2 linked regions of the Homo sapiens genome follow. The protein of the gene in region 2 interacts with the protein of the main gene of each other region in a pairwise test. Each region holds a gene or a part of one and is shown on either strand. Other genes may lie near its edges.

The links.
Region 1: the proteins of EHD2 (region 2) and TBC1D23 interact in a two-hybrid assay, tested with the Homo sapiens proteins (one large-scale study listed by BioGRID and IntAct).

What each region holds. Positions count from the first base shown.
Region 1 is NC_000003.12:100,322,824-100,325,854, forward strand, and holds the end of TBC1D23 (TBC1 domain family member 23), read left to right. Parts: intron 1-763; coding exon 764-845; 3' UTR 846-2,415; downstream 2,416-3,031. UniProt on the Homo sapiens protein: Putative Rab GTPase-activating protein which plays a role in vesicular trafficking. Involved in endosome-to-Golgi trafficking.
Region 2 is NC_000019.10:47,719,808-47,723,464, forward strand, and holds part of EHD2 (EH domain-containing protein 2), read left to right. Parts: intron 1-3,657. UniProt on the Homo sapiens protein: ATP- and membrane-binding protein that controls membrane reorganization/tubulation upon ATP hydrolysis. Plays a role in membrane trafficking between the plasma membrane and endosomes. Important for the internalization of GLUT4.

The DNA.
Region 1 (3,031 bases), on a different chromosome or scaffold from region 2:
TAACTAGATTCTCTCTCTCCCTTTCTTCATTGATATTTATGGTTCTCTATTCTGCCTCGCATATAACACTCATAGATGATTTATACAGTGGAATTGTTAGGTTTTACCGAAGATGCTTTTTTAAAAAAATACCACTATTTTTATTCTCCAAGAAAAGAAAATTGACATTTAATCTATGGTGTTGATATTTTGCAATAGTTATCATAAGTCTTATCTTTTTTAAATATTTCAGACCTCATAACGCCATTTTATTATGTACATAACCCTCTGTAAAGTTTGGATAACTATAGCTACTTTTTATATAGGAATCTGTTTTAGTGAACTTAAATTATTTGCTTAAAGTCAAACTATTAAGTGTTGGAATTGTCATTGTCTTTGGAATTGGATACCAACAATTCATGTGTGATTTTTGTAGCTAATTGAAGGTACATCTGTATTGGGGAGTGGAATATTATATTTTTTATCTTGTGTTTTATCTAGCTATTACCTATATTTAATAATGGTTCAAAGAATTTTAGCTTTACACTATATGAAAAATCACATTGCCTTTGCATTTAGATTTTCTTTCGAAATAAGCTTTGGATTATGTTCAAATAAGCTATGGGAGTACATAGGAGGCATCTCTGCTGGCTTTGTGGGTTAGGGAAAGCTTCCCATTGGAGGTGACCTATCAGCTGAGTCTTGAAGGGAAAGCACTGTATTTTTATATACATATACATATGTATATATATATGTATATATATGTATTTTTTTTCCCCCTTAGGTATTTGATTCCAAATGCAGGGGATGCAACTAAAGCCATAAAACAGCAGATCATGAAAGTTTTGGATGCTTTGGAAAGTTAATATAAAAGAAAATTATATAAAAAGAAATTAAGACAACCAAGAGAAACATGGACATATACCTCCTGACTGAATACTAACTGGAGACCTTTCATTTGCTCATGGGGCTGCTTAAATAGCAGGTCTAAGAAAGTGTAAATTATTATAATCAATCTGTGGACAGTAAACTTTTTAAAAATTTTTCTTCTGCATTTTGGTTTTATAAAATGATGTATTATAAAGGTCAGTTATTAAATTACTTTGAAGTAACTGACCCTGTGCCCTTATGGACTAAGTAAGGGTACAGAATGCAGTTCTGTTTTGAAGAGCTGTTTTAAGGGAACATGCATCACTTTCGGGATCAAAAACAACTGTACACATACATATCTGCAGTGTCTTCACTGAAAATTAGAGATAGAATTAGTTGAAGAGACTTCCTTAATTGCTACATTGTTTTACTCACTGAGCAATATCAGAAACTAAAACATAGATTAATAATTCACTCACTGTTTCTATTCTTCTTAAAAAGAGTGAAATCTTTTTAATGGAATGGTTGAAGATTCCTGCCAACTCAAAATACAGTACAGCTAGTAAAATGTTGAAACATCAGTTTCTAAATCACCTTTGCTCCATTAGCTAATTTTTTGGACACTAAATGCTTCAAAGATAAGAAACTTCATCCTAATGATTTCTAAAGAGCAGTTAAAAGCATTAAAATAAGTAGGTAGGCTGTTAAGATTAAAATTAACATTTTGGGGACAGAATTGTGTCTGTAAAAATGTCATTGGTTTTATTACAAGCGGATTATTTTATTCATATTTTAAAACAAATGTTTAAGCCACATTGATTTATCCTCATTGAGGATTATGGTCTGTGACCACAGTAATATCCACTTATATAAATGCCAAATAATCAGAGAGCTTATAAAGTACAATTGTTTTTGTCATCATTTTCTGAATTTCTTTCTCTTCTTTTGGTTTTGTCCTCTCATTGAAGTTCCAGTGGTTTGAAATTAGTTTTGGACACATTGTCTTAATGTACTGAAAATTGCTCTGCTGTATTTTGCAGCGTTCTTCATTTAATTTATAATGGTCCATATTAGACACATTTGGTAAGAGAAGTCCAGGAACACATTTAGGGCCATGGAATAGTATTTTGTAAAATCCATTTGGGAAGTTGCAATACCCACAATCTGACATGTCCTAAAATGTAAGGGATTATCTCTAAGGGGTTGATGGGAGAAATATTTAGATGTACCCTGTTAACAGCCAGTCATTTTGATTTACTTATGGAAATCAAGTGAATAAAAGGCAACATAATTTGGGAAATTTTATTCTAATATCTAATAAAAACAGTTTGAGTGGTTGAAGACATCTGCATGAAATTGCACCTAGGTGCATTACTTGATATAACTCTCCCCTAAAACTGTTGTAATTGCATTTTTTCCCTTTTCTTGGCACCCCTTTAGAAATGTACTGAAGTCTCATTTTTCACCCATTTCAGCCATGGGACATTTTTCATAATATTAATGTAAAGATGTTTGTGTTACTGTTTATAAATTACAATTGTAAATAAATTACTAGTTTGCCCAAAACTTTGTTCTTAAAGACACTGTCTCTCTCTTTCTTTTCCCTATTTGCAAATCTCTTAAGGTCACAAAATTAGAGAATTGAAGGCATGTAGTAAGTTACCTACTACCATGAACTACACAGTTACAGGATTATTTATGACTATTAAATGAAAATACATTTCATTGACTGTTCTAGGCACTTGTGTAGATCATCCTCCCTTCACTGGCCCACTGACCACAGAGCTGGGAATCACTCTGGGGTGGCCACCTCTCATGGGCTCTTGTGATTGCAAAGGTTGCAACTTTAGGAGGTTGTTTTTTGTATTTTCAAGATAAGGAAACCAAGGCTCAAAGAAATTGAGTGAAAAGAGAAAGTATTCCTCTTATCTCCACACTCCTTGGAAATTATTTTTGTCTGTGAAGGTATACAATTATTTCTCCTATATAGGATTGATGCCATTTGCCCACCATTAATAAAACTTGGTCAGTATGATAAATTTGTATTGACATACTCAACCATTTTTGTCACTGGTATGTTTCACACAGGACCTTTAACTCCTTAGCACGATACTCTTACATTAGACTAACCAGCCATAAATTGGCAGTCCTAGTTAAAATTCATAGTTTGATGTGGGGGAAC
Region 2 (3,657 bases):
GCTCTCTCAGCCAGGGCAGGGGTGCCGGCAGGGGGGTTCAAAGGCCATGGGTGGTGGGGGAGTGGGGAACGGGGTCTCCCTCCCTGGCCTTGAGGATAGAGGAAGAGGAGGAGAGAGTGTCCAGCTGTTGGTGTGTATATGTGTGTGTGTGTGTGTGTGTGTGACTTTGTGTATATCTTGGGAAAGTGTGTCATTATGAGTGTACTCCTGGGTGTGGTGGTTCCACGCATTTGTGTATAGCAGTGGACGTGCCTCATTGTGGCCATGGCTCTGAGGTTGTATGACTTTGAATTGTGTACATGCCTCTGTGTGTGTGTGTGTGTGTGCGCATGTGCCTATAATTGTGGCTGGAAGACTTTGTTTTGTTTGTTTTTGAGACAGAGTCTCACTCTGTCGCCCAGGCTGGAGTGGAGTGGCGCGATCTCGGCTCACTGCAACCTTTGCCTCCCGAGTTCAAGTGGCTCTGCTGCCTCAGCCTCCTGAGTAGCCAGGACTACAGGCGCCCGCCGCACCCATGTCCGGCTAATTTTTGTATTTTTTTTTAGTAGAGACGGGATTTCACCATGTTGGCCAGGCTGGTCTCGAACTCCTGACCTCAGGTGATCCTCCTGCCTTGGCCTCCCAAAGTGCTGGGATTACAGGTGTGAGCCACCATGCCCGGCCTGCTGGATGACTTTGTGTGACTCTGAAGGGCTGTGTAGGGCTATGAGAGACTTTGTGGGATAGTGTGCAACTGATTCTGTCCCTATATACTGTTATATTGTGACGTGTGTGTGTGAGAGAGACAGACATAAAGGGCAACTTTTGTCTATGTGTCTATGTGGATTTAGTGTGTATCATTGTAGGTGTGAGTCTGACATTGTGTGCCTGTGTGTGAGATGGTCTAGGCATATATGTGTATCTGGGCTGTGGGCTGTGTGTGACTTTGTGTGGCTGCATGGGGCGGTCAGGGCTGCGGGGATTTTGTGGGACTGTGTGTGACTACCTGTGATTGTATCTCCGGATACAGTTGTGTGCTTCTGTGTGGTGTTGTGTATGTGAGAATGTGTGTGTGTGCAGGAGTGCATCTTTTGTGTAACTGTGTGTGATTACGTCTGTGTGTGTGCCTTTGGATTTGGGAGGGCATGGGAGGTTATGTGTGTGCGACTGTGTCTGTGTGGGTGTGCATGCATGTGTGCCTCTGTACCTGTGTGTTCGTGCAGGTCTCTGTGTCTATGCCGTGTGTGCATCTCACATTATCTTTGTGATTGTGTGACCACAAACATCTGTGTAGGTCCCAGATTGTGAACACGGGTATGTCTGGGAGCCTGCATCTTGTAGTAATTGGCTATGTTTGTGTCTGGATGTGCTACTGGGGGTGTGTGTGTGTGTGTGTGTGTGTGTGTGTGTATGCGAGCTCATGTGTGTGGCTGCCTCTGCATGTAAGATGTGTGAACACACGCATGTGTGATTGTAGCATAGTAAAGCCCTCAAATCTGGGCTCTGCTACTTTTATTTATTTATGTTATGCTACTTTTTTTTTTTTGAGATGGAGTCTTACTCTGTCTTCCAGGCTGGAGTGCAGTGGTGCGACCTCGGCTCGCTGCAACCTCCGCCTCCTGGGTTCAAGCAATTCTCTGCCTCAGCCTCCGGAGTAGCTGGGATTACAGGCGCCTGCCACCATGCCCGGCTAATTTTTTTGTATTTTTAGTAGAGACGGGGTTTCGCCGTCTTAGCCAGGCAGGTCTTGAACTCCTGACCTCGTGATCCACCCACCTCGGCCTCCCAAAGTGTTGGGATTACAGGCATGAGCCACCGCCCAGCCTATTTTCTGCTGCTTTTAAACTGTGGGACCTTAGGCAAGCCACTTAACCTCTCTTTGCCTCAGTTTTCTTACCTGCAAAATGGGAATAATGGGCTGGGCGCAGTGGTTCACGCCTGTAATCCCAGCAGTTTGAGAGGCCAAGGTGGGCAGATTACCTGAGGTCAGGAGTTCGAGACCAGCCTGGGCAACATGGTGAAACCCTGTCTATACTAAAAATACAAAAATTAGCTGGGTGTGGTGGTGCTTGCCTGTAATCCCACCTACTCGGGAGGCTGAGGCAGAAGAATTGCTTGAACCCAGGAGGTGGAGGTTGCAGTGAGCCGAGCTCATGACACTGCACTCCAGCCTGGGCGATAGAGTGAGACTTGGTCTCAAAAATAAACAAACAGAAAAACAAAACACACACACACACACACACACACACACACACACACACACACACACACTGGGAATAATAATACTAGCGGCCTCATAGTTGTCCTAAAGGTTAAATTAGTTAAAACATACAAAGCACTTAGAAGGTGCACACTTGTGTGTGCACACAGTAGGCGCTATGGAAGTGCCAACAATGCCTGTTTTCGCTGGGTGAGTGCCGTTGTGGGCCCAAGGTTCCTTTTTGCCACGTCTCCCATCCCACACTGACTCAACCTCTCTCCCTTCTTCCCTCCCCGCCCCATGAGACACACTTTCCGAATCTGGGCCAGTATGTGTGTTTGTGGAGACACCGGGAGGGAGGGGGGGCTCCAGTTGCTGTCCCTCCAGTGACTTGGCCCTTCCTCCCCCAAAACAACGGCCCCCAACCCCATCCCGGTCCCTGCGTTGCCCGCAAGGAGGCTGCTTCCTCTCAGGCAGGATGGGTGCAAGCACCAGCTCCCCGGAGGAGCATAGGGGCCCATGGGACTCCTCTTCTGTCGCCTCTTACCTGTGTGTCTTGAGTAAGTCCCCTAACTTCTCTCTCTTTTTTTTTTTTTGAGACGGAGTTTCGCTCTTGTTGCCCAGGCTGGAGTGCAGTGGCAGGACCTTGGCTCACTGCAACCTCCGCCTCCTGGGTTCAAGTGATTCTCCTGCCTCAGCCTCCCGAATAGCTGGGATTACAGGTGCCCACCACCACACCCAGCTAATTTTTTTGTATTTTTAGTGGAGACGGGGTTTCACTATGTTGGTCAGGCTGGTCTCGAACTCCTGACCTCAGGTGATCCACCCGCCTCAGCCTCCCAAAGTGCTGGGATTGCAGGCGTGAGCCACCACGCCTAGCTAGTCCCCTAACTTCTCTGTGCCTCAGTTTCCTCATCTGGAAAATGGGGTCAGAACAGTGCCCACCTCCTGGGGTTGTTGTGAAGAGTCACTGAGTGAGCTCTAGCTGGAGGGCATGAAGTCAGTAAATCAGGGCTAGCTCCTTGTTCTGCCAGTTAACTCTTCGTCCTCCGGGTTCCCACTCTGCCTTCCCTCCTCCTGGAAGTCCTCCTTGACCCCCAGGCTGGGGGTTGGGTCAGGCACTGGCCCTGGGCTCCCACAGCTCCCTGGATCCCCCTGCCCACCCTGGGCTGACCACTCAGGGGCCAGGTCTGTGTCCCCAGTGGGCTGAGAGATGTAAGGACAAAGCTGAAACTGCCTCAGCCTCCACACACACAGCAGGGACCACAGAGGGTGCTTCCCAGTGGGTGACATCACCATGACTTGCTGAGTGCTTACCGTACATCCAGCACTGTTTTTAAAAAAACAGTTTCATTGAGGATTAACGTACACGCCATAAAAACTCAACCATTATGGCCGGGCTCAGTGGCTCATGCCTGTAATCTCAGCACTTTGGGAGGCTGAGGTGGGCGGATAATGAGGTCAAGAGATGGAGACCA